Linked DNA regions of Homo sapiens: region 1 is linked to region 2. The links come from fine-mapping of genetic effects on gene expression. A gene starts in region 2. The other region holds a variant in brackets. All regions are shown on one strand. Distances are between the middles of the regions.

Region 1 (15,607 bases), 540 kb after region 2:
CCCTTGCGAACTGATTCTGTGGACTCCTTTTTTGCTGTTTCTGGGGGAAATCTCGGCAGATCACTCGCTTTTCTCGGAGTCCTCCCCGGTTTACTGTCAGGTAATTCCAGCTTGTGTCTAAGTGCAGGCCATTATTCTGGCAAACGCTCCCCTCCTGAGGCTGCCTCTAACTGGGACACCTGCTGACTGGGGAGAGGACCGGCAGCCTCCCTGCGTCCTCACCCAGCTCTTCTGCTCCTCCTGCCCCTACACAGGCTGCCTCGGACTCTTCCTGGGTGGGGTGGGGGAGAAGCGGTAGGGGCAGCAACGTCTGAGGAGGACCTGAGTACTCTGGGCTTTTGGGAGCACTTTGACGGGCGTTATGAAAACCCTCACATCTCTCCTCAGTAGTACCCTTATAAAGAGGGGCTGTCTCCCCCAGGGCTGCTTATGAAACTGCCTTTGAAAAAACTATAACAGTGAGAAAATTAGGGCCGCAAAAGACATCTGATCTAACCAACCCTCATCTTGCCTTTAACCTCCAAACTGCCTTTGGTCACTCCTGGGTTTAGGCCAAGCTAACTTTGGAAGACATTTAGTTTATAGTTTAAATGATAGCAGCCCTTCTCCAAAACTCAACTGCCTTTGTAAAGCTAATGAAAGACCAACCAGGTCAGGAGGATGTTGAGCCTGAGTTCTGCTAAGGTGCAGACATAAACGATTGCCAACCATTATTCCAGAGGCAGAGGGAAGATATGCAACTTCCCCAATTACTCCTGCAGATAACATCACTATCGTAGAACCTAAGACTGGTACTTTGGGAGGCCAAGGCAGGCAATTGCTTGAGCTCAGGAGTTCAAGACCACTCTGGGCAACATGGCAAACCTTGTCTCTACAAAAAATACAAAAAAATTAGCTGGGCGTGGTGACATGTGTTGGTAGTCCCAGCTACTTGAGGGCGGAGGCAAGAGGATTGCTTGAGCCTGGGAGGTCAAGGCTGCAGTGGGCTGTGTTTGTGCCATTGCCCTCCAGCCTGGGTGACAAAGTGAGACCCTGTCTCAAAAAAAGATCTCAGGAGTTGGGTGAGTGGGCTTGAGCATTCACACCTACGAGGCAAAATGGCACAGCTTAACTTGTGTGTGACCTTCCTCTAGGAACACTTGACTGGTAAGAGAAAAATGCCTGAAATGAGCATGTGAACAATTTCAGTAAACATACTACACATGCGGGCCCCTCCCAAGTGCTGGCAGGCCACTGTGCATGTGGACAGCCCACACCAAGGAAATATCAAGGGAGGGGAGGCGCAAAACCCCGGAAGCATGCCAAGGTGTAAAGCTCCAAGTCCAATGTCAAACCGGACAAGGATCTCTCAAGTCACCTGCTTGGTCCTCTTCCAAGTGTACTTTACTTCCTTTTGTTCCTGCTCTAAAACTTTTTAATAAACTTTCACTCCTGCTCTAAAACTTGCCTTGGTCACTCCCTCTGCCTTATGCCCCTCCGACTAATTCTTTCCTCTGAGGAGGCAAGAATGGAGGTTACTACAGACCCGTACAGATTCACTACTGCTAACAATTTGAGAAATAACTCCGTCTCCTGTGCGGCATGGCTGGCCTTGTGGCAATTAAACTATATCTTTATTACAATGCTGCGTGGTCTCAGTGAATTGGTTTTGTCTGTGCAGTGGGCGGAAGAACCTACTGGGGGTTATACTCACTTACTGCCCCTCAGCTACTACAACCCTCCTCACACCTCCAGTCTCATTCTGCCGGAGTCCCCTCACCCCTAGATAGAAGCTCTCTTCCACCAGGTCCTTTTCAGGAAGATTTTTCTGCGGGGTCCACATGTGGGTCACAGGAAGCACACAGCTGGCAGTGCAGCCCCTTCCTAGCAGCCCCTCCACACCCTGCTAGGTGCCAGGCAGATTCCAGACCCCAGAGTCTCCACCTCCAAGACTCCCCAGATAGTTCTCCTAAAGCCTCGCTCACCTGGTTAGAGGTGAGGGAGAGCAGCGCCCTCTACTCCCTGTTTTGGGGTGTGGGCTGGGGAACAGGCTGAGGGAGCACGTTGACAACTCTGTCCAGAGAAATTTCCCCTCCAGCTTCTGGGGATGTCGCCTCTCTTTGTGGTCAGGAAGTAGGTGAAGAGGTGGGTTTTAACTCTGTTCTCCCTTCTGGGGAATCCTAGGTGGGTGGTCCAGCTTCACTTTAGGATCAGCAACTCTGGCCTTGTTTCTGCCTTTGGGGCCTCAGCTGAAATTCTGAGCCTACTGGAAAGTCTTCATTTACATTGTATTAGTTTCCAGACTTTCCCTAAGAGCTATTCAGGGTGTCTGTCACCTCGAGCCAGAAGAGACTTCCTCAGAGGATCCACCCAAGACAAAGCTGCCATCAGTTCCCTGAGTGAAACCCTTCCTTCTCTGTCAGCTGCATGTGGGCTGCACCACTTTGCCTCACCTTCCACCAGAAGAATCCTGCCCCTGCTTCTCCACTTGACCAACACCTTTTGGTCTTAGAAGACCCGAGTCAAAATGTCACCTGCTCCAGGAGGCCTTCCCTGACACCCCACGAGCTGGTTCAGGGGGCCCCTCCACTGTGCTTGTGCCAGCCCTGTCACGAAGGATTCTGTTGGCATTCCCTCTGTCTCAGTCTATCCCCTCACTTGATTCTGAGCTCTTTGCAAGCAAGGATGGTATTTGTTTTATTGAGTATGTTTAATTGTTTCATACGAAAAGCACACACAGGCTGGGTGCAGTGGCTCACACCTGTCATCCTAGCACTACTAACCTACTTTTGGTTTATCTGAATACCTCATTCTTTTTTAGCGATGACAGTTATTCCATAGCAAGAGACATCATCATTTTATCTAACCATTCTAATGAATGGATATTGAGTATATTCCTATTTTGTGGATAATACAAGCAACATTGCAACAAATATCTTACTACATAGTACACATGAGAGTATTTTGGTAGAAGAAAATGCCAGGGGTTGGGCTGCTGGAACATAGGGTGTGTGCATTTAAAAGTGTAACAGAGGCCAAGTGCGGTGGCTCACTCCTGTAATCCCAGCACTTTGGGAGGCCAAGGCAGGTGGATCACTTGTAATCCCAGCACTTTGGGAGGCCAAGGCAGGGATTACAGGTGTGAGCCACGGTGCCCAGCCCCTCTTCCCTTGTCTTTGTCAACCATGTGTGCAGTAAAGAAGCAGGCAACATGGCACCGGCCAGGTAGGGAAATCATTTGCATAATGAAAAATTAGGGTGGGGTGGCCAGCTTCTTCGCAAGCTATATAAATGGCACACCGGGTCTGACCAATCTTTTGTGCCCTATGTAAATCAGACACCACCTCCTCAAACTCGTCTAGAAAACCCCATGCATTTCACCACAGAACCAGAAGACCCACTCGGGAGCCTTTCTCTCTGCAGGAGAGAGAACTTTTCCCTTTCTCTTGCCTATTAAACTTCTCTCTTAAACTCACTCCTTGTGTGAGTCCGTGTCCTTGATTTCCTTGGCATGAGGCAATGAACCTCAGATATTTACCCCAGACAATGATGCTGCTTCAACACGAAGGTGGCCATGCCACGTAGGAGATGGAGTTATTACTCAAATCAATCTCGTTCAAAGCGCATAGGTTAGGGATTTTTCTTTTCTCTTTCTTCTATTTTTTTTTTTCTTTTTGAGATAGTCTCACTCTGTTGCCTAGGCTGCAGTGTAGCGGTGGGATCTTGGCTCACTGCAACCTCCGCCTCCCAGGTTCAAGCAATTCTCGTGCCTCAGGCTCCTGAGTAGCTGGGACTATAGACATGCGCCACCACGCCTGGCTAATTCTTGTATTTTTAATAGAGATGGGTTTTCACCATGTTGACAAGGCTGATCTGGAATTCCTGACCTCAAGTGATCCATCCCGCTTGGCCTCCCAAAGTGCTGGGATTACAGGAGTAAGCCACCGTGTCCAGCCATTATCATTTAAACTATGAACGAAATTTCTCCCAAAGTTAGCTTGGCATATGCCCAGGAATGAGCAAAGACAGTCAGCCTGTGACACCAGAAGCAAGATGGAGTCAGCCATGTCAGATTCCTCTCACTGTGATAATTTTGTGAAGGTGGTTTTTTTTACCAGGGGTCCTTGCTCACAGAGCTCCCAAGATGGTGGCGAGCTACTTCCAAGATGGTGGCAGGCCACTTCCAAGATGGTGGCAAGCCTTTCTTGGCCTCACGGATTCCAAGGAATGGAATCTTGGGCCATGCGGTGAGTGTTATAGCTCTAGTAGAAGCCGTGGGTCACGGAAGAGAACCGTGGAACCCAGTGACTAGTGTTCAGCTCGATTAGGATGAACCAAGGCACTTAGCTGTGCAGGAACAATGGCAAGCCTTTAGCACGATTGGGAGTGGCAACGGGAGTCTCGCTGGATCAGGAGCACAGAGGACACCCTGCCAGATCCGGAGGGATGGGAGTCAGTGGCAAACAGCAGTGGTGGATGGTGAGCGAAAGCTCAGCTCGAGCCGTAACAAACATGGACCAGAAGAGTGCAGTTGCAAGATTTAATAGAGTGAAATAGCGTGAAAACAGAGCTCCCATACAAAGGGAGGGGACCCAAAGGGGGTTGCCATTGCCGGCTCCAGTGCCTGGGTTTATATCCTGATCATCGTCCCTCCCGCTGTGCTCTCAGGCAACAGATGATTGGCTATTTCTTTACCTCCTGTTGTTGCCTAATTAGCATTTTAGTGAGCTCTCCTTACTATCTGATTGGTCCCATGTGAGCTAAGTTGTAAGCCCTGTGTTTAAAGGTGGAAGCGGTCACCTTCCCAGCTAGGCTTAGGGATTCTTAGTCGGCCTAGGAAATCCAGCTAGTCCAGTCTCTCAGTTTCATGCAGACTGGGTCTGCTGTGTTCTTGGGTCTCCAGCATCCAGCCCTGAGCCCACCCACACACAGTAGGTTTGCTCCCTGCAGCAACATCATAAACTCCAGTGCCCCTACCTACATCCTGCTGCCACTGCGCCAGTGCCGCCCTGGTGAGTCATCAGACCCAGTGTGCTGGCCCCTGGGGTGATAGAGCCTCTAATGGAAGCTTGACAGACTGTGTGTCTCCCAATCCTTGAAGCCCAGAGTGCCTGGGTCAACCTGGCTTACCAGGCAACTCCCACTTCGGAGATCTGTTAGCTTTGTCCTTTGTGAGAGGCAAAATCACCTTCCATTCAAATTAAGTCCTAGTGGCCGGGCGCGGTGGCTCACACCTATAATCCCAGCACTTCAGGAGGTTGAGGCGGGCGGGTCACCTGAGGTCAGGAGTTGGAGACCAGCTTGGCCAACATGGTGAAACCCCATTTCTACTAAAAATACAAAAATCAGCCGGGCGTGGTGATGCGTACCTGTAGTCCTAGCTACTGGGAGGCTGAGGCAGAAGAATTGCTTGAACCCGGAAGGCGGAGGTTGCAGTGAGCCAAGATCACGCCATTGCACTGCAGACTGGGGGCCAAGAGTGAAACTCCATCTCAAAAAAAAAAAAATAATAAAATAAAATAAAAAATCAAGGCCTAGCAAGGAGAATGTTGGTTGCCTTCTCTCCCTGGGGAAGGGATGACTCACAGAACAGGAGTGGTGGATGGAGGACAGACAGCCACCGAAGAGACAGAGAAAAGACACAGAAATGAGGCTGGATTCCAGGCGGAGAAAATTAAAAGGTGCAGAAAGAAGGCAAAAGAGGAAGAAAACAGCAGAGAGACACACAAAGAGAAAAGAGCCAGAGAGAAAGAGGAGCAGAGTTAAAGAGAGAAGAGACACAGGAAGAAGTGGAGGGAGAAAGAGGAAACAGAAAGGAAAAAAAGAAGAAAGAAAGAAAGAAAAGAGACAAGGAAGAGAGAAGGAGAAGACAGGAGAAAGGAAAAAGAACATGGAGCAGGAAGTGAGTTTCTGAGGGTACTTTGAATCAGCCAGAAAAAATGCCCGTACTTCAGATTCCAGGAAGACATGACACGGGAAACGGGGGCAGCCTTGGCTTGGTTCTCAGCTCCTGGCCAGCGGCCAGCTCTGGTTTCAGCCCTTGCCTGCAGCCCCGGAAGTCTGTTGGAGGTCAGACTCTGAACATGGGGCAAAAACATAAACAGGGCAGCCACACTCTGTGTGCCTGGATGGTGGGCACAGCTTTCTTAGTAATTTGGAAACACTGAATAAGAGCTCAAAAAAGTGCCTACTCCTTGCACAGTGCCTTAGCTATCAAGGATGCTCACTGCAGCACTATTATAGTAGAGAAAGAGAGAAAAAATACAGAAGGAAGGAGAGAAGAAAGAAGTAAAATGTGGCTTAGTAGATTTATGATACATTCATACAACACAATGCTCTGTCGCCATTTTAAAAAGTGGTACAGAAGAGCCCTTCATATGGGGGAAATCGTCACGATACCAGGTGGAAAAAATGAGTACACTTTTTTTTTTTTTTTGAGACAGGGTCTCACTCTGTCTCCCAGACTGGCTCACTGCAGCCTCAACCACCTGGGCTCAAGTGATCCTCCCACCTCAGTCTCCTGATTAACTGGGGCTACAGACACATATCAACATGCCTAGCTATTTTTTTTTCTTTTGTAGAGACAAAGTTTCACCATGTTGCCCCAGGCTCATACATGTTTAAATAAATCTTTTCTTTTTTTTTTTCTTTTTGAGACAGAGTCTTGCTCTGTCACCCAAGCTGGAGTACAGTGGTGAGATCATGGCTCACTGCAGCCTCAACTACTGGGGCTCAAGCAATCCTCCCGCCTCAGCCTCCTGAGTAGCTGGGATTACAGGAGCACACCACCACACCTGGCTAATTTTATTTATTTTTTTTGTATTTTTTGTAGAGATGGGATCTCTCCACATTTTCCAGGCTGGTCTTGAACTCCTGGGCTCAAGCGGTCTGCCTGCCTCGGCCTCTCAAAGTGCTGGGATTACAGGCATGAACTGCCGCACCTGGCCTGGTTAAATAAATATTTTAAATGGCATGATTCAAGTTTTGTTAGTGGATATATATGTAGTAGGGGTGGCACCAACCCTGTCCCAGTTCAAGGTCCTCTTGAAATTCAGTTCAGCCCAACCCTGTGGTCAGAGACACCTGTTTTTTTGTGTTTTTTTTTTTTTTTTT[G/TTG]TAATCTAAAGTCCAGACTCTACTCCTTCCCTCCTAGCCCCATATTCTCCCTTCTGGGGAAATTCCCATGAGTTTTAGGCAGGGCGCCAATTCCTGGCCCTTGCTCCCGCTATGGAATCCCTTGCAAGAGATGGGATTCTTTTGCTGGCAGCCCCTGGTACATCCGGGCCTGACCGTGACCACAGCAGCAGTAGCCATCCAGTTCTGCAGTGTGGCTCCAGTCAGGCTCCTGGCCTGGGCCCTCTGAACTCCTGGTCCTCGTCCTTTGTGAACACTGATAGTCTTCTAAGAAATTCTCTTTCTGTTTCAGGGGGTGACATTGGCCTCTGTTGCTTGTCCCCAGGATCCCTCTCTGACACCCCTGCTGTGTTTGCTGTGGGGAGTTCTGCTGCCACCACCCATTAGGTATGCAGGTCACCCCCTCTCTTGGGTCCAGGTGTCTGGGCTGTGTGAGATGGTGGAGAAGCTGTTCACTTGGGGTAACCAGCTGGGGCCTACGCACTTGGGCTGGGGAGCCAGTGAGCGGGGAGCCAGATGGGGTGCGGTTGATTCCTCTCCAGGAACCCAAGGAGGACAAGTTGGGAGAGGTCCTGGGTCCAGGCCATGGGAGATGCCCTTCTGAGTGACAGTGGACAGTTGGTAAACAATAATTGTTTGCACGTGGTCCTGGGCACCAGAAAATTGGCCCTGCAGGCCAGAGGCCATCAGCATGGCCTGAGAAAGAGGTTTGGGGTAAGAATAGGGAGAGGATGCGAGAACCTCTCACTCGAACTGGACCAGGGAAAGGCCTATGGGGCTTCAAAAGATGTCTCAGAGAAGGCAGGAGGAGCTGTCCACCAGGAACAGGACACCCGAGGTCCCAAGACTTGGGACGCTGCCCATGTTGGCTACTTCGTTCTGTCCTGTCTTTGCTGGCCAATTTTCAGTCAGAAACCCTTACATGGGAAGGGCCTCTGGATATGTTTGGGGAAGTAGAGAGAAAGGATGGTGTGGGGGGCAGAGTGCCTTAATCCATGCTGGTCTGGTGGGGAAGCCTGGGGCAAGAGTCAGGTAGCACTGATTTTTTTTTTTTTTTTTGGTCAACTTTTTATTGAAATGTAACTTACACACAGAGGAATGCACCTAAGTTAATATTCACAAAGTGAGCACACTTGTGGAACCAGCACCTAGCTCAAGAAAAAGAACTTTATTCAGCATCCCAGAAGCCTCCCATTAGGGAGGCAATGATTTTTTTTATTTATTTATTTTTGAAACAGGGTCTCACTCTTGTTGACTAGGCTGGAGTGCAGTGGCGCGATCTTGGCTCACTGCAACCTCTGCCTCCCGGGTTCAAGCGATTGTCGTGCCTCAGCCTCCCGAGCAGCTGGGATTACAGGCACCCACCACCACACCCGGCTAATTTTTGTATTTTTAGTAGAGACGGGGTTTCACCATTTTGGCCAGGCTGGCTGGAGGCAGTGATTTTAAAGTGGAACATGGGCAGGGTCTGAAAGCAAAGGGAGGAGGTAGGAAAAGGTCCTCCCATGTGCCAGCCTGGGATGAGTATAGTTCTGGGGGCTCAGCAGGAGGTCCCTTCTTTATTGGCACCAGCTGGTGAACTGGCCTACTCACAGGGCTCAGGAGTGCACCAGTCCCTGGTGCTCAGGGCCTTGGAGCTGGCCCTTGGGAGCTTGGAGAGCAAGTTATCAGCCATAAGTAGCCCTGCAAAGAGAGCCCAGAAACAGTGTTTGTGGAGGTCACAGAATAGGTGGAGCTGGGCCTAGAGCCTGAGGGCAAACAGGGAAGAGGATGTGTCCTGGCTGGGCTGGGAGGGCGTGTGCCCACGAGGTCTGAGAGTGGCTGGCCCCGGGGGAGTGGTTGCAGCAGGCACTATTTGCTCCCCAGTTTCTGATTGTCCAGGAATGATTCACATGAGTTTTACTGATTGGCCCCTCTGCCTCTCATCCTGTGGTGGACACCTGAGTAGGGGACAGAGGGCACCATGGAATGAGCACAGCTGTGGCTCAGAGGGACCTGGTTTTGAACCCTGGCTCATGGTTCCGTGACTTTGGGAAAGTCATATTCCTTCTTTGGCCTTGGTTTCCTCATTAGCAAAATGGGACAACAGCATGTACTTCCTAAGACAAACTGTGTAAAATGCCTGGCATTGGGCAGGCAATTAATACATGTCTGTTCCTTTCCTTTGCCATGTTTTCACTTAGCAGCGATTTATCCGGGGCCTAGCATGTAGCAGCCACATGTGCTCAGCACCAGGATCACAGTGGTGAACAAAATCACAGATGTGGAGACTGGCTGCCCTCATGGAGCTTGGGGCAGACATTCAGTAAACAAAGGCATGTCCTGAAGGAAAAGTAATGTCTTACTAAAAAGAATCATTGATGACAGCCTTCAAATAGAGTGGTCACGGAAGGCCTCTTGGGAAAGGTAACATTTAAGCTGAGATCTAAAGTATGAGAATGAGCCAGGCATTTGGGAAAGCAGTGCCGGGAGGAGGCTAAAGAACACAGGCTTTACAGCCAGATGTATATGGGTTTTGAATCCTGTTTCCTCTATTTATTTAGCTGTGGGACTTTAGGTGAGTGTCTTCACCTCTCTGGGCCTTGGTTTTATCTTTTGTGAAATGTGGCTAAAAATACCCACTTTATAGAATTGTGAGGATGAAACTCAATCGTGCATACAAAGTACCCTGCATGGAGTCTGGCACATGGTGAGCACCTGTGAAAATCAGCTCCCCTCTTGTCCCAGTTTGAGACTGTCAAGTGTACAGCATAGACACAATGCATGCACATGTGTGCACACACATTCACACTCACACTTGAAACACATATAGATATGCAGGCAGAACATAGATAGCTCTCTCAAGCTGGGTATTTCAGGAGACTTTCATAAAGGGACTCTTTTGTTTTTTTTTTGAGACAGTCTCATTCTGTCATGCAGGCTGGAGTGCAGTGGTGCAATCTCTGCTCAATGCAACCTCCTCCTCCTGGGTTCAAGTGATTCTCCTGCCTCAGCCTCCCAAGTAGCTGGGATTACAGGCACCCATCACCACACCCAGCTAATTTTTGTATTTTAGTAGAGACGGGGTTTCACCATGTTGGCCAGGCTGGTCTCAAACTCCTGACCTCAAGTGATCCGCCTCCCTTGACCTCCCAAAGTGCTGGAATTACAGGCGTGAGCCACTGTGCCCGGCCATGAAGGGACTGTTTTTTTTTTTTTTTTTTTTTGAGATGGAGTCTCGCTCTGTTGCCCAGGCTAGAGTGTGGTGGCACAATCTCAGCTCACTGCAACCTCTGCCTCCTGCGTTCAAATGATTCTCCTGCCTCAGCCTACCAAGTAGTTGGGATTACAGGTGCGCAACACAATGGCCAGCTAATTTTTTGTATTTTTAGTAGAGAAAGGGTTTCACTGTGATGGCTGAGCTGGTTTCGAACTCCTGACCTCAAGTGATCCACCCGCCTCGGCCTCCCAAAGTGCTAGGATTACAGGCGTGAGCCACCGCGCCTGGCCCATAAAGCGACTCTTTACAAAGAGTCCCTTTGGCAGGGTTTGGGGAGAGTAACAAGAGATAGTGCAGACCCTGAGGGTTAGTAACAGGGTGAGGAAGGGGGCAGTTAGCAGAACTGAGATGATAGCTGTGTGGAGACAGCTATCACGGGCTGGGACCTTCAGAAGAGGGATGCAGCCAATGTATAGGAACTCGACAGGGAGAGGGCCCGGGAAGGAATATTCTGGCTTCTGCCTCCTCTTGCCTCTGATCTCCCGCTAAGCTCCCATTGGCCAAACTCAGTTGGAAGCCAGGGTGCATGGAAGCCTGTGGATGCACCCCAAAAGGATCAGCCTCCCAGAGTAGAAAAGGCTGGAGTGGATCTGGAGAGACAGGTAGAAGAGTTACAGCATGCTCTCCACTTCCACTGGCCTCTTTAGAATGCCAGAAGTGACAGATATACCCATTGTAAAGTGGCGTAAGTCAAAAAGAAAAACCCTCGGTCACCTAACCGGAAACTCCAGGGGTAGGGCCTTAGGCAGAGCTTCATCAGTGCTCAAATGATAGCCGGCAATCAGGTTCTCATCAACTCTTAGTTCTATGTTCCTTTGTAGGTTAACTTCAATCTCAGGCTACATATGGTGGCAAGATGGTGGCGGTAGAGAGTAAAGAAGAGGGTGGCCCCCGAAGCAAAGCCGTTGTTCTTTACAAAGGAGAGTGAATAAAAGCAGGGTGGAAATGTTACACATGTTCACTACAGTGTACCTCGGAGAGCTCATGGCCCATAAACTCAGGCAAGAGGGATTGAGATCACTGAGGCCGCGGTGAGCAGGGTCCCCTGCTTGGCTATAGTCTGTTTGGGGATGACTCAGACTGTCTTGAAAACACGTGGGCTGTCCGTTCCCACCTCTGCACTGAAGGGACCTGAAAGATTACTTAGCCCAGCAAAAAGACGAGATTTGTACAAGACCATGTAGTTAATGTCAAGGCCAGGACTTGAACCCAGGTCGCACAATCTGTCCTCCACACATGACTTGAAAGAAAGAAAGAAAGAAAGAAACACCCATACAGAGTGTTTGGGTGAAAAACAGAGAGAGGAGAGAGGCAGAGAGAGAGAGAGAGAGAGAAAGATTAAGACAGTATAAAATAATATACAATGAAAAGTAATTTTCCTCCAGGCACAGTGGCTCACACCTGTAATTCCAGCATTTTGGAAAGCCAGTGAGAATTGCTTGAGCCCAGGAGTTCAGCCTGGGCAACACAGGAAGTTCTCGTCTCTACAAAAAATTTAAAAACTAGCCAGGCATGGTGCTATGCACCTGTAGTTCCAGCTACTCAGGAGGCTGAGGTCGGGGGATCTCTCGAGTCCAGGAGGTTGAGGCTGTGGTGAACTGTGATTGTGGCGCCCCTGAACTCCAGCCTGGGTGACAGAGTGAGACCCTGTCTCAAAAAAATAAATAAATAAAAGAGCTGGGTGTGGCATCCACTGCACTCCAGCCTGGGTGACAGAGCAAGACCCTGTTTCAGAAACAAAAAAGTAATTTTTGTCCCATGATGTATTCCTGGTCCTCTTTCCAGAGGTAATGATGACTAAGTCTCCTTTATATCTTTCCAGAAATTACCGTTGCAAATGCAATGGTGTGCATATATGTATTATATATAATGTGTGTATATATATATATACACACACACACATACACACACACTATTATTTTCTTTGTTATCTTTTTTTTTTTTTTGAGATGGAGTCTTACTCTGTCACCCAAGCTGTAGTGCAGTGGTGTGATCTCGGCTCATTGCAACCTCTACCTCTGGTTCGAGCAATCCTCGTGCCTCAGCCTCCCAAGTAGCTAGGATTACAGGCATGTGCCACAACAGCTGGCTAATTTTTTTTTTTTTTTTTGAGAAGGAGTCTCGCTCTGTTGCCCAGGCTGGAGTACAGTGGTACAATCTCAGCTCACTGCAACCTCTGCCTCCTGGGTTCAAGTGATTCTCCTGCCTCAGCTTCCTGAGTAGCTGGGACTACAGGTGCCTGCCACCATGCCCGGCTAATTTTTGTATTTTTAGTAGAGACAGGGTTTCACCATGTTGGCCAGGCTGGTCTTGAACTCCTGACCTGAAGTGATCTGCCCTCCTCGGCCTCCCAAAGTGCTGGGATTACAGGCGTGAGCCACCGTGCCCTGCCCCTGTCTTTGTTATCTTGGTGACCTTCCTATATTAGCCACAGAGATTCACCTCATTTTCAATAATAGAAGAGTGTTCTACTATATGGATATATTCTTATTTAACCAGTCCCCAAATGATGGACATTTAGGCTGCTTCTGGTCTTTTGCTTTTGCAAACAATGACGCAACGAACATTCTTGTGCACATAGTGTCTTTGCACATGTGTGCTCTAGGGGCTAATCCTAAGAATGGAAATGGTACCTCATGCCTTTCAAGGGCTTATGCTGACACCACTTATGCTAGAAAGAACAAAGACTGATAGAGTTGGAAGGGATCTTAACCATACTCAAGCCCAACTCTTCCCTCCTCATTTTGCAGATGAGGACACTGAGGCCCCAGGTCTGACAGCAGCCTAGTGGTAGATTTGAAGTAGACTATGGTTGGGCATCATGGGATAGGCCTGTAATCTGAGCACTTTGGGAGCCTAAGGTGGGAGGATGATTTGAACCTAGGAGTTTGAGACCAGCTTGGGCAACATAGTGAGACCCCCAGCTCTATAAAAAAAATTTAAAAATTAGCTGGGCATGGTGCTGTACCTGTTGGGGGTGACATGGTTGAGCCTGAGAGGTTGAGGCTGCATTAAGCCATCTTTGCACCACTGTACTCCAGACTGGGTGACAAATTGAGATGCTGTCTCAAAAAAAAAAAAAAAAAAAGAAGTAGATCACTTTATGTTCTCCCAGAGAAGATGTGGAGGAAAGAGGGCAAGGCTGGGAGTAGGGCAGTACTGTCCTGGCCTGGAAGGGCAGGGTGTGGACAACAGAGCAGTTCCTGAAGCCAGAATGCCTGGATTTGAATCGTGGTTTAGCAAAATAGGCTTTCTAAGCTTCAATTTCATCACCTGGAAAATGGGGGTGGTTTTAATCTTCCTTTAGTCTTCCTTATAGGGTTGTTGTGAAGATTAAATGAGATAATGCCTGTGAAACAAAGGTTACCTTTTACTACCATTTCCTAGCCTGGGCATCTTGACTCCTGTGCCTTGCAAGAGGCATTTTTGGGGTTAAAAGACCCAAGAGCTGGTGAACTGGGGAAATGCCTGGCTTCCAGCCAGGCTCTCTGTTCTTCCAGTCAAGGCTGAAACTGAGCAGGTTCTAACCTTATCCAGAAGCTCTGGCTGCCTGCTCCCTCCAGAAAGGAGCTTGCTGGGGCTGGGACCCAATCAAGTGGAGTGGTTTGAAGGAAGCCCAGCCATACTTCCTCCCAGTGCCTCCCTGTGCCTGGCACTGACAGTACAGGGCCTCCCAGATTCCTCCCAGAAATGGTAGGGGCATCAAAACTCCCATTTTTGAACTGAAGAATATGAGGCTCCCAGAGTTCAGGGGACTTGCTTCTAAATAAAGAATTCCCTGGGTGGAGTGGGGGACTTCCCAAAGGGAAGGAGGACACATTGGTTCACCATTATCTGTGAGCCACCATTATCTGTGATCCACCATTACCTATGGGCTCTTTAGCATGTCTATCCATATCTATAGTTTCTTCCACTTTCTTCTCAGAGCACTGGTCACACTGTGAAACCAGATATTCATTTCTGTGGTTATTCAATTACAGCTGACAATGGGCCCCTTGAGGTTAGCTCTTGTCCCCTGGTTCACTGCTCTTTCCCCAGTGCCTGGTGCCATGATTGACACACAGTAGGCAAATATGTGTTCCTCCTCTCTAAAAAGGGATTACGGGCTGGGTGCTGTGGCTCACGCCTATAATCCCAGCACTTTGAGAGGCCGAGGTGGGCAGACCGCTAGAGATCAGGAGTTTGAGACCAACCTGGCCAACATGGTGAAACCCCATCTCTACTAAAAAAAAAAAAAATACAAAAATTAGCCAGGCATGATGGCTGGTGCCTATAATCCCAGCTACTCGAGAGGCTGAGGCAGGAGAATTGCTTGAACTCTGGAGGCGGAGGTTGCAGTGAGCCGAGATCACACCACTGCACTGCAGCCTGGGCAACAGAGCAAGACCCTGTCTCAAAAAAAATAAAATAAATTTTAAAAAATAAACAAATAAATAAAAAGAGATTGCAGGTATGGTGGCTCACACCTGTAATCTCAGTACTTTGGGAGGCCAAGGTAGAAAGATTGCTTGAGCTCAGGGGTTTGAGACCAGTCTGGGCAACATAGTGAGACACCATCTCTACAAAAAAGTAAAAAAAATTAGCTGGGTGTTAGCGGTAATCCCAGCTACTTGGGAGGCTAAGGCAGGAGGGTTGCTTGATTCCAGGATGTCGAGTCTTCAGTTAGCTATGTTAGTGACACTGCACTCCAGCCTAGAGTCTGGGTGACAGAGTGAGATTCTGTCTCAAAAAAAAAAAAAAAAAAACCATTACTTGCTATCAGCGTTATTCTGAAGAGTCAATGGGATAAAGCTCTCCAAAGTGCCTGGCACAGTCAGATCAATCTGATGTAGTCCTGGACCATTCTCTACAGACTTGCATATTTCTCAAGCAGGTATGGAGCAGAGGGAGGGGAAGAGGGTCCTTGTGGGTTGGCAGGGGTCTCCTTCTCTGCAGGACTCACAGAGGGAGCCTTGTATGGGAGCGGGTGGACAGGATGCCTCGTGGCACAGCTGAGCCCCAGGCTGCCAAGCCTGGGCTGGGCTAGGCTGGGCACTCTGCCACAAGCAGCCTTCTGAGGGCCCTTTCATCTGAGTCCCAGCTGCCATTTGGCTGGCTGGCCTAAAGCCCAGCCGCCTGGAGGGGAGAGGGGCTGGCCGCATTGTCTCCTGAAGAACAGAGGGGAGTGAGTGAGGGGAGGGCAGAAGGAAGCAGTGCTTGCTCTTGGAGTCAGGCCAAAGGGAAACAAGATCCAGTGAT
Region 2 (14,419 bases):
TCATAGCTCACTGTAACTTTGAACTCTCAGGCTGAAGCAATCCTCTTGCCTTAGCCAGAGTAGCTAGGACTATAGGTGTGCACCACCATGCGTAGCTATTTCATTTAAAATTTTTTTTTTTTTTTTTTTTTTTGCAGAAATGGGCTCTCACTATGTCACCCAGGCTGGTCTTGAACTCCAGGCCTCAAGCCATCCTCCTGCCTCGGCTTCCCAAAGTGCTAGGAATACAGGCATGAGCCACTGCACCTGGCCTGAACATAGTATTTTTAAAGTAAACTTTTAATTGAAGTTTAACATACAGTTTATATACATAAAAGCATAGAAATAATGAAGTTTACAAAGTGAATACACCCATATATCTACCTCCCTTCCAGATCAAGAAGTAGAAATTACCATCACCCAGAAGCCTCCCTTTTCATTCCTCCCACTCTTTCCCTAAAGTTAAGTATTTTTCTGGCTTTTATCACTATAGATTAGTTTTTCCATTAGAATACTTTACATAAATGAATCATACAATATGTATTCTTTTGTGTCTGGCTTTTTTTCCTCTCAACTTTATGTTCATGAGCGTCATCCTTTTTTTTCCTTTTTGAGAGAGAGAGAGAGTGTGTGTGTGTGTGTGTTTGAGACAAGCTCTGCTCTTTCACACAGGCTGGAGTGTAGTGGCACACACACAGCTCACTGCAGCCTTGACCTCCTGGGCTTAGTCCATCCTCCTGCCTCAGCCTCCCATATAGCTGGGACTACAGGCACATGCCACCATGTCCAGCTATTTTATTTTATTTTATCATTATTATTTTTTTTTTTGTCGAGACAGGGTTTCACCATTTTGCCCAGGCTGATCTCAAACTTCTAGGCTTAAGTGACCTGCCCACATGGGCTTCCCAAAGTGCTGAGATTACAGGTTTGAGCCACCATGCCTGCTGAGTGTCATCCTTATTGGTGTGTGTAGCAGTATTCTACTCATTTTGATTCTAGTTACATAAATATACCATAATTTATTACCCATTCTTCTGTTTATAGTAATTATTACAGTGTACATTCTTGATATAATAAAAATCTACTCTAAACTAGTTTTCTATTTCCCATCCAATGCAAGGATCTTACAATGCTTTAATTTCATTTACCTCTTTCCTGATTTTTGTGCTATTGGGGTTGTATATTTAATTTTATATGTATTTTTAGCCTCACAAGACATTGTTATCATTGTTCTATACAGTCAATATTTGTTTAGATTTACCCACTTTTACCCTCCACTGTTCTTTATTCCTTCATGAGTTTTCACACTTTTCTCTGGGATTATTTGCCTTCTGCCTGAAGACCTCTGTAGTGTGGGTCTACTAATAATAAACTGTCTTAGCGTTTGTTTATCTGAAACCTCTTTTATTTAACCTTCACTACTGAGGGATATTTCTCAGGTATAGAAGTCTAGGTTGGCAGATATTTTCTTTCAGAATTTTAAAGATACCACTATTGTCTTTTGGTTCCATAATTGCTTTTGAAAAGTCAGCTGTCTGTCTTATTTATTACTCCTTTGAATTTAGTGAAACTATTTTTAAGATTTTCTCTTTTCTTTTTGTTTCCAGGAGTTTTACTATGTGCCTAGGAATAGAGTGTTTTGTTTTTTGTTTTTTATCCTGCTTGTGTTTGTAGAGTTTCTTGAGTCTGTGGTTTGATGTCTTTTACCAGTTTTGAAAATTCGTGGCTATGATCTCTTCAAGTATTGTTCTAATTATGTCTCTCTTTACTCTCCTTATGAAACTCAAATTATGTGAATATTAGACTTTTTCACCATGTCACATATATTTGCAAAAGTAGAAAAACAAAATGGAGATGCCTGTAAAGTTACTGAGCCTGAGGAAGTTGCCATGACCAACCACCACTACCTTCTAAGGAGAATGTCTTTTGCTTTAAAAACTAATGAGTTTCTCTTATTGGAAAACCAATCTGGAATCACAAATGGAAGAGGATTCCAGGAAACACAGGGTTCCAGCCACAGATGGGAGCTCCAATGCTAACTGGACAGTGGATAATAAAACAGAGATGTTTAACTTTAGGGCATAGTAATTCAAATACTCACAGAGTCCTTATAAAGTTAATAAAAAGTTTTTCTATATTATTCTAAAATGTAGAACTCAAACCAAGGGATAGAAAGAAGCAATGAGCAAATGCAGTATATTTGTACAAACTTTAGCATTTATCTCAATGGCTTCTCTTCCAATATAACTATGTGACAGACCATTTTTTTCTTCTTTTGAAAGGGATACAAGCCTCCCTTGCTTTTCTCAAAGAAGTCCAGTTTTAAAGCCAAGCCCTACACTGCCAGCAGTAGATGTACTCACACTGTCAGAAATATCTACAATGAAACTGGATTTTAAGGAGAAAACCTGTTTTTCAACTGTATGTTAATATTTCACATCACTGATTCCCAGAGAATGAGGAGGAAATTCTTATATTCCCTAAGGAAGAGTATCTGAGTGTTAAGAAATTGTGTTTTTCTTTTCTAGAAGGAATCTCAAGGAATTCAGATTTATCCCCCTACTCCCCACCCCTTCTACCACTATGAGCCAGTGTTATTAACAATAGTGTGTCTTATCCTGGGAGAAAAGAGGGGAAAATTAGTGAGGGCCAATGTTCCACATTAAACTGAAGAGAGATACATTTATCTAGTGTGTAAGTCGGCTATTGCTGTATAATAAATTATCCCAAAACATATGCATTAATACAATAGTAAATATTTATTATTCTCACAGTTTCTGTGGGTCAGATGTTTGGGGATGGCTTAGCTTGGTGATTCTAGCTAGGGGTCTCTCATGAGGTTGCAGTCAAGATCAGCTGGAGCTATAGTAATCCAAAGGCTTGACAGGGGTAGAGGACCTGCTTTTAAGATGATTTATGCACATATCTCAAAGTGGCCCTGACTATTGGCAGGATGCCTCAGTTTCTTGCCACATTGACATCTTCTTAGGGTTAGTTATCTTTACAATATGGGACTTAGTACCCCCAGAGCAGGTGATCCAAGAAAGGAAAGCAGAAGGAGTGATGTCTTTTATGACTTGTCCTCAGAAGTCACACACCAGCGTATCTGCTGTATTCTTCTGGTTACATAAACTAATCCTATATGACTAATGTCACAGAAGACTATGCAAGGGTGTGAATACCAGGAAGCAAGAATCATTGTGGCCATCTTAAAGGCTGGCTACCATAACCAGTCAATAAGAAAAGTAAACTAAACTTTATAATTTTGTTGGGCTTCTCCCAAGTTAGTAAACATTAGAATATTACAAAAATGGGAGTTGAATCAATGACTTTTGTATAATTTACGATTAGTGCATATATGTCATACTCTTTCCTGATATACTGTATATCATACTCTAGTAAGAAATGTTAAATCGTTTAATACATTGAAAATAAAGATTTTACCTTTTTAGTGTCTGTCAATGCACATGAGTCTGAAAGTAAAGCTTGAAAAGAGTAGGATAAATCCATTTTCAGGGAAAGCATGTTGTGACTCTTCTTTACTATCGTTCACAGGGATTGGTGGAATTCAAGAATGTTCTGCTAAAGGAATACACCTATTAATGGAAACATCCAGGTAAAAGTAGAATCAGCTTGCCATTGTCGTTCTAATATACCTTTCACAAGCCTCTTCTGAAAGAAGTTTAAACAAATGTACAGAGTCATCGTTAATTATCTTCCTGCTTGAAAAACCAGTGCATAAATTCATCTCCTTTCTGTGTCTTTAAGTGCTTATAGGATTGTCTGTTAGTTTTAGACCAATGGTGAATGCTGATGGCTGCACGGATTTCAGGAAAACATCTTTTCCAGATTCTTTGCCATAGGAATAAAACTTTCTCAAGTTTAGAATTTACAGATTGTTAATCACACTACATTCTTTTCCAAATATATCCTTCATTCCTCATGACATTATGTAGTTAGAGCTGACCATATACTGGGTGAGTAGTAATCCCTCAGGAACAGCAGGGAACTTTCTTAGGTGACAAAGTATTTGCCAAAAGTTTACAGAAAATATCATACTTGCCAGCAGAGACATACCAAGAGTGGGGCAGTGAGAGTAATCTGCCCACGGTGCAGGCAATAAAGGGATGTGGGACTGTAGACATTTTTTTCCTTTTTAAAAATGTTTAATTTGTAGAAAATTTTAATACAATAATAATACTGACCAAAGGTCGATCAAGTTTTTGTTCACAGTTGTAAACTTAAACTATATTAGTTATAAAGTACTACCCCCTAAAAAATAATCTGATCGTTTGTAGAGTTTACTGTTTCAGAAGCAGTTTTTCTTCACTTATAACATTTTTGGAAACTGGAAACAATTGTCCATTCTTTTCTGTCTCATTAATAGAAAATGCTGGATAATATAGATGTAATAGTAAAAGGATAAGACAGAGTGCTCATTATGAAGTTGCATGATATAGTTTGGCTGTGTCTCCACCCAAATCTCATCTTGAATTGTAGCTCCCCACAATTCTCATATGTCATGGGATGGACCCGGTGGGAGGTAATTGAATTATGGGGGCAGGTCTTTCCCATGCTGTTCTCATGGCAGTGAATAAGTCTCACAAGATCTGATGGTTTTATAAACGGGAGTTCCCCTGCACAAGTTCTCTCTCTTGTCTGCCACCATGTAAGACACGCCTTTTGCCTTCTGCCATGATTGTGAGGCCTCCCCAGCCACGTGGAACTGTGAGTCCATTAAACCTCCTTTTCGTTGCTGGGCACAGTGGCTCATGCCTGTAAATCCCAGCATTTTGGGAGGCTGAGGCGGGCAGATCACTTGAGGTCAGGAGTTTGAGACCAGCCTGGCCAACATGGTGCTGCCCCATTTCTATTTAAAAATACATATATACAAAAATTAGCCAGGCATGGTGGTGCATGCCTGTAATCTCAGCTACCCAGGAGGGTGAGGCAGGAGAATCACATGAACCTGGGAGGTGGAGGTTGCAGTGAGCTGAGATTTTGCCTCGGCACTCCAGCCTGGGTGACAGAGCGAGACTCCATCTCAAAAAAGAAAAACAAAAACAAAAAGCAAACAAACAAACAAAAAAACCCACCTCTTCTTTATAAATCACTCAGTTTTGGGTATGTCTTTATCAGCAGCATGAAAATGGATTAATACACTGTGTATGCAATAAAGATAAATTTTATTTTATTTTATTTTTTGAGACAGGTCTTACTCTGTCAACCACACCCAGGTGGGAGTGTAGTGGTGCGATAGCTCATGGACTGCAACCTCCGTTTCCTGGACTCAGGTGATCCTCTTACCTCAGCCTCCTGAGTAGCTGGGACCACAGGTGTACACCACCACACTTGGATAATTTTTTGTATTTTTGGTGGAGATGGGGTTTTGCCATGTTGCCCAGTCTGCTCTCAAACTCCTGACCTCAAGCAATCCATTTGCCTCAGCCTCCCAAAGTGCTGGGATTACAGGCGTGAGCCATGGCACCCAGCAGCAATAAAGAGAAATTTTAAAACGCGAATCTCAACCTTTGAAGTTTTGTGTAATTCAAAAGAAAATATATGATTTTTCTTTTTTGAGTTATCTTGTTTTCCGGTGTAAACTAGAGGTTAATCATATACAAAAATATTTGCAAACAGCCAGAATCAGTCTCCAACAATGTACAGTGGAATTCTAAACTTTAAAATTGTTCCTTGAAGATCACCACATAAAAATTGTGGAGAAGGTCATTAACCGTGCAACAAGAACAAAAAAATGTAAGGAAATATAAATTAGGAAAAGAAACCATTTTCTAAAGAATAACAGGAGACATGGCAAAAGCACTGGTCTTACATTGCCAGAAGAAATATAAAGACTAATGCTTGAATGTCTTAATAATTTTCTTCAAGAACTATTCACTCTTTCTTAAGAAAAGGATCGAATATTTTCAAGATTTGCTGTCATTCAGCCATTTTCTCACAATACACCATAGAAAAGACAACCCACAGAGTGGTTGAATATTGCAATGCATGTAACTGAGAAGAACTCGTAACTAAAACATGGACAAAAGAACTTATATAGATTAATAAGAAAAAAGACTACTCAATAAAAGTAGTCTTTAGGAAAAATAAGACTACTCATTTTTCAATAGAAAAATGGGCAAAAGATGTAAACAGTCAATTTACCAAGAAGAAAGTCCAATGAAAATAAACACTGAAAAGCTGCCAAACAAAAATAATAATCAGGGGAATGCAAATTAAAACAGCAGTGGATACAACCACTTCCCCACCAATACGGCTGCTAGAGCAAGTTTGATTAAGACCAAGTATTATTCTCATTTAAACAGCATATATACTAAAATTGAAAGGTTACAGAGATTAGCGTGGCCCGTTCAAGGATGACACATATATTTATGAAGTGTTCCACATTAAAAAAAGATCAAGTGTTGACAAGAATGTAAAGCGACTGAAACTCTCATATATGGCTGGTCACACTGGTGACACTTTGGAAAAAATTTGGCCCTATTTGTTAAAGCTTAAGGTTGCATGTCTTATAGCAATTTCTCTCAACTATGAATAGCACCATGCAAGGTCCGTGGGTGTTTTGTTTTGTTTTGTTTTGTTTGAGACAGAGTCTCACTCCATCGCTCAGGCTGGAGTGCAGTGACATAATGCAACCTCCGCCTCCCAGGTTCAAGCAATTGTCCTGCCTCAGCCTCCTGAGTAGCTGGGATTACAGGCATGTGCCACCACGCCTGGTTAATTTTTTTTCGTTTTTCTTTTTTTTTTTTTTTTTTTTTTTTTTTGAGATGGAGTCTTGCTCTGTCGCCCAGGCTGGAGGGCAGTGGTTTGATCTCAGCTCATTGCAACCTCTGCCTCCCAGGTTCAAGCAATTCTCCTGCCTCAGCCTCCCCAGTAGCTGGGATTACAGGCACCTGCAACCACACCTGGCTGGTTTTTGTATTTTTAGTAGAGACGGGATTTCACCATGTTGGCCAGTCTGGTCTCGAACTCCTGACCTCAGGTGATCCACCCACTTCAGCCTCCCAAAGTTCTGGGATTACAGGCATGAGCCACCGCATCTGGCCGATGCCTGTCTAATTTTTGTATTTTTAGTAGAGATGGGGTTTCGCCATGTTGGCCAGGCTGGTCTTGAACTCCTGGCCTCAAGTGATCTGCATGCCTCGGCCTCCCAAAGTGCTGGGATTACAGGCATGAGCCACTGCGCCCAGCCAATTTTAACTTTTTGTCATAGACTTATGTATATTTTATGATAGTAAATGATAAAATAGACTAGTAACTACATGTATCTTGTGAATTCATGACCTTTTTATTAAATGCTTTGATATTTCTAGGCTACACAGGTCATTAGTAAGTTTTCTGAAATTGTCACAAATCTCCAAGAAATTTTCCAATATATTTATTGAAAAAAATTCACATACAAGTGGACCGGCACAACTGAAACCCATGTTGTTCAAGGGTCAACTATATATTCATATTAAAAACATCATTTGCACTCCTGTCTGGAAGGTGATGAATCTAAAAGGGAAGGTGTCAAGCCAACACTGAAAACAAAAATAAACAAGAAGATGATGTGATTTGATATAGCACAAGATACAGGGGATGGTTTGAACTGAGCACCAGAAGCGTAAGTTGTATAGTAAACTTTTTCTCTTGTCTTCAACATACTGGGGCAGTGGTCCCCTGCTAAGAACATAATTAACCTTTTGGCTTAAACAAGTAGTGAGAGGGTAAAGGAAGGCAGGAGCCTCACTCCCTGGGACTCAGACTCCAGTTCTTAAGCTGCACATTGTTCCCTGGAGTAGGGGAGTTGGGAGAGAAAGAAGGTGCCTTAGCCCATTTTATGTTGCTGTAAAGGAATACCTGACACTGGGCAATTTATAAAGAAAAGAGGTTTATTTAGCTCATGGTTCTACACGATGAGAAGTTCAAGGGCATGGCCCTGGCTTCTGGTGAGGGCTTTCGTGCTGCATCACAACGTGGTGAAGAAGGTCAAAGGGGAAGTGGACATGTGCAAAAAGGGGAACCCCTGAGGGGCATCCTGGCCTTATAACAACCTACTGTGGTGGAAACAAGCCCATTCTTGCAAGAACTCATGCAGTCCACGGAAACAGCACCAAGCCACTCATGAGGGATCTGCTCCCATACACCAGACCACTTCCATTAGGCCTCATCTCCCAACACCACCACATCAGGGATTAAATTTCAACATGAGTTTTTGTGGGGACAAACAAATCATATCCAAGCCATAGCAGAAGGCAAGACAGAAAAATGGCATGAGTAAGAAATGAGCCAACTGGTTACTACTTTTGATCACTTGGACAGGGTAGGCATAGGCAAAGAAAAGATTTTCACTGGGATAAACATCATTGTTATGTACCCCAGACTGTCTTGTTCCCCAGATTTTGAACGAGCGAACTTTTTTTCCCTTAAAAGTCCATAGCTGCATAATTCTGAAGGCATTGGCTGCAAGTTTCCATTTTTCCTTTCTCAAGGTTCAAGAAGTGCCCAAGTATTTTTTTCTTTTCTTTTCTTTTCTTTTTCTTTTTTTTTTTGAGACAGAGTCTCACTCAGTTGCTGAGGCTGGAGTGCAGTGACGTGATCTCAGCTTACCGCAACCTCTGCCTCCCAGGTTCAGGCAATTCTCCTGCGTCAGCCTCCCGAGTAGCTGGGACTACAGGCACATGCTGCCACATCCAGCTAATTTTTTATATTTTAGTAGAGATAGGGTTTCACCATGTTGCCCAGGCTGAGCTCAGGCAGTCTGCCCACCTTGGCCTCCCAAAGTGCTAGGATTACAGGCGTGAGCCACTGCGCCTGGCCTATATATTTTTTTTGATCGATAAGAAGTGTATTCATTTATTTGCACAGTTCTGCAGGCTGTGCAAGAAGCATCGCACCAGAATCTGCTTCCACTCAAAGTAAATAATGTCAAGGTTTGTTGTCATTCAGCCATTCAGGAAGGCAAAGGGGAGCAAACATCACATGGCAAAAGAGGAAGGAAGAGAGAGGGAGGGGGGTGCCAGGCTCTTTTCAACAATCAGCTTTGCAAAAACTAATGGACTGAGAATTCACTCCTGCAAGGGTGGCACCAAGGCCTTCATGATCCAAACACTTCTCACTAGGTTCCACCTCCAACATCAAGTATTTTCAGATGAGATATTTTCTAGCCTGTCTTAAGAATGATTTTACAATTTTTCCAGGCCATTTGCCCTCCTGGCAACCTTCCGTGTTCACCTTCTGGCAGGAAATTTTCTTACATGCCTACCTGGCAAAATATTGATCCACTTCAAAAATTCAGCTTAATTTTCTCCTTCTCTAGACTATATTATATTTTATCCAACATATTTTATATTATAAGTATATAATATATAATATATCCAATATAATTTAATTATATATTATAATTTATAATTATAATTTTATTATATTTATAATTTTAATTTATTAAAAGAACCAGGGAACACATTTATATTATATAAAATATAAAATTGTGATACATGTATATATTATAATTGTATTATATTTTATCCAATATAATATTTGGATAAAATATCAAAAATAATTTTTTGGATAAATTTAAGAGGTAGCCTAATATATAAGGGTGACTTTTCAGTCCAAACAAATGCAGACAACTCATACATCTATGTGTGCACTTACTGGTTTATATTTCAGTAGTCTCTTTTCTTGCTTGTCTCCATCTCTAAAGCATGAGCTCCTTGATGGAACAGATCACCTTGGGACACTATGTAATACAGCATACTGCTTAAGTGCATAGAGCCAGCACTTCTGGGTTTAAATCTCACACTTAGGGAATGTGTATCCTTAAGTAGGTCATCTAGCCTTTCTGTGCGTAAGTTCTCTCATTTGTAAAATGGGTATAATAATAGTAGCAACTTTAAGTAAGGTAAAAGTGAGAGAGAGAGAGTGAGAGTGAGAGGGAGCGGGAGAGAGACAGCGAGGGCGAGCGCTGGTCTTGAACTCCTGGGCTGAAGCAATCCTCCTGCTTCTGCCTCCCTAAGAGTTGGGATTACAGGCGTGAGCCACCGCACTTGGCCAAACGTTTTACTTTTTAAATTAGATTAAAAACCTTTTAATGACCGTCATTGAGTTACAGAATTTTTTTTTTAATAAAACGTAGCCTAATATATAAAAGGGTCATTGTTTCCAGGTCAAACAAATGCAGATAGCTGTGTTGGAGGGCAGAGGGAAGAGGGAGACTTGGAGGATTCTGGCAGGAAACACTCGAGTTTCCTCCAGTCTCTGCAACATCTTCCCACCGTCTTGCCTGCCATATGCAAGGTCCCTCCAGTTCCTTTTATTTACCTGTCAGAGGACTACTTTCTCCAGGAAGCCATCTCTGGCGTCCCACGCTTAGGCTCTGTCAGGCAAACTGATCGCCCTTTTATGCAACTGTCTGTTTAGCTGTCTGATACCACACAACTGTGACTTGCGCATTGGGGCTATGTCTGATTTTTCTCTGCGGAGTACTCAGGAAAGGAACGACTGATCTCTTCAAGCGAATCCTGTTAACAGCTAAGAGCCTCCTCTTACTTGGATCCCTATTGTTGACTGATGGAGACGGTTTCCCTCTCCATCAGTCACTCCTTGCCTCTCAGTTTCTCAGCCTCACCTGGAAACTTTAGAAATGAAGACCCTCAGATGTGCTCCCACGTTCTTTCAGCGATAATCTCTACAACCTTAGGGCATTAGCTCCGCCCCGTCTCGGCTCCTGACCCCGCCCCCTCCCGCACGCCTCCCTAAGCCTGGGTCACAAGTACGCATGCTCTCCCTTCTTCCCCGTAGCGTGATGACGTAAGCGGCGTTGGCGTGGTGTGGTAGGAGTGGTTGCGCGTGTTGCGGCCCGGGTTCTGTTCGTAGGTTTACAATTGTCGCGGGTAGTGGGGCGCCCCAGCTGCCAACTGCACGTGGTTTCTTTCTGGCGTTTGCCTAGTGTCCTGTCCATTCCGCCCCGTTGGGAAGTGGGAAGCGGAGAGGTTCTGTGGGGACAGAGCTGGGAGTCCTGAAGGAGAAAGCGCGCAGCCGAGGGGCTCTGGAGTGCCTTAGAGCAGAGCTGCGGCCGCGGAAGGGGAGCAGCTGAGAAAGGAGGGCCGCTGCAGGCGGGGTTCGAACCGTGGGGTCTGGGCTGCTCCCGCGGAGGGCCTGGGCGGACGCGGGATGCTGGGGGTCCGCTGCCTGCTGCGGTCCGTGCGCTTCTGTTCCTCCGCCCCCTTCCCCAAGCACAAACCTTCAGCCAAACTGAGCGTGCGGGACGCTCTCGGGGCTCAGAACGCGAGTGGGGAGCGCATTAAGATCCAGGTTGGTGAATGGGAAGGGAGTGGGTTTTTTCTTGTAGGGACTTTTATATGGCACATCCACATCTAGCTTTTCTTTTACAGTCGGGTCAGACACAACCGCCAGCAGGGAAAAGTTAGAAAGTGTAGGCGTCGCGGGTTTGCACTTTTCTGATTTCCATTACTTTTCACAAAACTGTTCCGATAACTGTAAAGCGCTGGAACTTTGCTTTCATGATTCCAGGGTATTACCTGTAAACTTGTTAATCATACCAAAAGTGTAAATGAACAAGCCCCCTTTCTCTATCTTTATCCCTTATAATGAATATCCAGGTTTATAAAGTGGTTGTCTTGACCTCCCTCCTTGAGAGCAGAAACCGTGTCTTACCTGCCTTTGTATTCACACATGGCTGACAGCAAATACTTGTTCAAACCATGCCTTTTAAACTTTTAGCGACCTCAGTGCCTATTGTGGGGGTCTGCATGTAATTTATTTTTAATGAATTCGGAGAAAGACTGGAATGTAGCAGTTTGAAAGAGCTCTGGAGTTAAGCTGCTTAGGTTTAAATCTCTGCATAGCGTTTATGCGTTCTACACCTTATTTTCCTCTTATGGAAAGAGATAATAATTGTCCCTGAGTCCTGAAAATTAAATGAGGTAATGGAAGTAAGATATTTAGAACAGTGGCTCATAGTCTACAAATGTTAGCTGCTATTGTTTCTCTTGCTGATTATATTATTTGCAGCAGCTCCACATAGAAGAGGTGCAGAATAAACAAGGTGTTTGACTGTTTCTTATTAGGTTGCTGAAGTACACTGATGTGGTTATTTATTTTTTGAGACAGGGTCTAGCTCTGTCACCCAGACTGGAGCGCAGTGATGTGATCTCAGATGACTACAACCTCCATCTCCCAGGCTCAAGCAATCCTCCTGCCTCGGCCTCCAGAGTAGCTGAAACTATAGGCATGCACCACCACACTCTATAATTTTTTAAGTTTTTTGTGAAGATGAGTCTCACTGTATTGCCCAGGCTGGTCTCAAACTCCTGGACTCAAGCAGTCCTCCTCCTTCGGCATCCCAAAATGCTGGGATTACAGGCATAAGCCTGGTAGATGTTGTTATAATAAATACTTATTTTTTGAGTAGGTTCTTGCTTTGTCACCCATGATTGTACTGACACAGTCATGGCTTGCCGTTGCAGTGATTTCTGTTGTCCTCACATATCCTTTACTTTTTAGCGGTATGACCAATCTGCTCCTCTTTGAGTTCCATATTCTTTCCATAGGTCTGTTGGTCTATTGATTGGGTATACATTAATGATACTTTGTGTGCTAGTCAAGAGAAAATTCAAAGATGAAAAGAGAACCTGCTGCCCAGGTTAGAGGATTTCAGTTTAGTCCTGTGAGGTCTGATATGGTAGCTACCAGCCACTTTTGGCTCTGAGCACTTGAACTTTGTCTGGTCCAAATTGAGATGTGCTATAAGTGTAAAATACATACCAATTTTGAAGAACCAAAAAGAATGCAAAATATCTCAATATGTTTTTATATTGATTATATGTTGATAATATTTGGGGCATAATAGGTTAAAGTGAAATATTTCATCTATTTTTATGTTTAACGTGGCCACAAAAAGAAATTTTAAATTAAACATGTGACTCACATTATGTTTCTGTTGGACAGCCCTGCTCCAATGGTTAAAACAAATAATTTTAGCAATAGGATAGTTGGTAGTAAGGTAAGTAAAGAACTATAAGAAAACAGGAAGTTACGTAACTGAGAAGGTTAAGGAAGATATCTTGCATGAGGTGATATTTCAGCCAAGTCCTGAAAGATGTGTTCCCTAGGCAGAGGAGCTGGGGATGGGGCAGAATTATAATAGCATCCCAGAAAAGCTCGTTGATAAGAACATGAACTTTGAAGTAAGAAATTCCTTTTGAATCTCAACTCTACTAATCGGTGACTATGTCCTGGACTATTTAGAGAGGTTATCGTGACATCTCTAAATAATGTTTCATCAGCTCTAAAATGATAACCACTTCGTTAAGTTTTTCTGATGATTAAGTAGCATAATATTTATAAAGAGGTTAGAATAGAAGCACATTACAAAGTGCTCAATAAATGTTAACTTTAACAAGTGAAAGTAAGAAAGTAGTCGTTTGGAAATTAGTTTTTGTGTTTTTTTGTTTTTTTGAGATGGAGTCTTGCTCTGTCACCCAGGCTGGAGTGCACTGGCGCGATCTTGGCTCACTGCAACCTCCGCCTCGTGGGTTCAAGCGATTCTCCTGCCTCAGCCTCCCCAGTAACTGGGACTACAAACGAGCGCCAACACTCCCGGCTAATTTTTGTATTTTCGGTAGAGACAGGGTTTCACCATGTTGGCCAGGCTGGTCTCAAACTCCCGACCTCAAGTGATCCGTCCTTCTCGGCCTCCCAAAGTGCTGAGATTTCTGTGCCCAACCTGGAAATTACTGTTGATTTAGAATCACCAAAGAGGAGATGCCTTCTGGGCAGCGCAGTGAGATGAAACCAGAAAGAAGGGCGCACCCCACATCCTGAGAAAGGCACCAAGATATGTGCCCTGTTATTTATTGTTGGGCCAGAGGGCAGGGCTCTGGGAGGAAATACCTGGAATTGCCAATATTGGGAGGATTGATTATATGAATTAGGCTCATCAACATGAAGGAATGTTAGGCATCCATTCGAAATGTTGTGCATTATTACGAAAACAAAAGATAGAATACCAAAGTGTGTATCCTATTGTGATTGGAACATATAAAATTAAGTATGCATATTGGTGAACTAAAAGAAGTTGATTTGTTGAGGCAGGATTGTGAGTACATGTTTTACTTTCATTTAGTCTGTGTGTGTATGTGTAATGAAAACGTAAAATGTTTTACGCTCACATTGGAAATATTTCTCTTCCTTAGGGATGGATTCGTTCTGTCCGATCCCAGAAGGAAGTCTTGTTCCTGCATGTAAATGATGGGTCATCTTTGGAAAGCCTTCAGGTTGTTGCAGATTCAGGCCTTGACAGTAGGTGAGTTTTGTTTTTTAAAAGAATTCTTTGATTTTTGTTTTTCACCTCTAGTGCTTCTCACTTCCCTACTCCAGTGTTTACGTTGGACCCCTGAGTAATCTTTTGAAA

Alleles and levels. Positions count from the first base shown, and alleles are read on the strand shown. Sizes are in standard deviations (SD) of each study's normalised expression.
In carriers of allele TTG in region 1, the expression in skeletal muscle of the gene that starts at base 10,782 in region 2 tends to be lower than with G alone (moderate effect, 0.75 SD a copy in FUSION).

Evidence for each region. PIP is the estimated chance that this variant, and not a neighbour inherited with it, causes the effect.
Region 1: its variant is fine-mapped to the expression of NARS2 in skeletal muscle (FUSION, PIP 0.95).

The regions. Positions count from the first base shown.
Region 1 is chr11:78,030,554-78,046,160 of GRCh38, reverse strand. It overlaps NDUFC2-KCTD14 (NDUFC2-KCTD14 readthrough), which reads left to right. Exons shown (of 3, transcript NM_001203262.2): 2 at 7,403-7,497. The coding sequence ends at 7,497. It also overlaps a transcript of KCTD14 not described here. Among named protein-coding and RNA genes, the nearest start is that of KCTD14, 15 kb to the right of the region's middle. RefSeq lists silencers at 5,921-5,980, 8,824-9,118, 14,222-14,291 and enhancers at 5,617-6,573, 15,413-15,607. The variant G/TTG (reference allele first, on the strand shown) is at 7,093.
Region 2 is chr11:78,571,227-78,585,645 of GRCh38, reverse strand. NARS2 (asparaginyl-tRNA synthetase 2, mitochondrial) reads left to right here and starts at 10,782. Exons shown (of 14, transcript NM_024678.6): 1 at 10,782-11,298; 2 at 14,202-14,311. The coding sequence starts at 11,158. It also overlaps the pseudogene RNU6-311P and the pseudogene COPS8P3. RefSeq lists enhancers at 10,487-10,626, 11,287-11,396.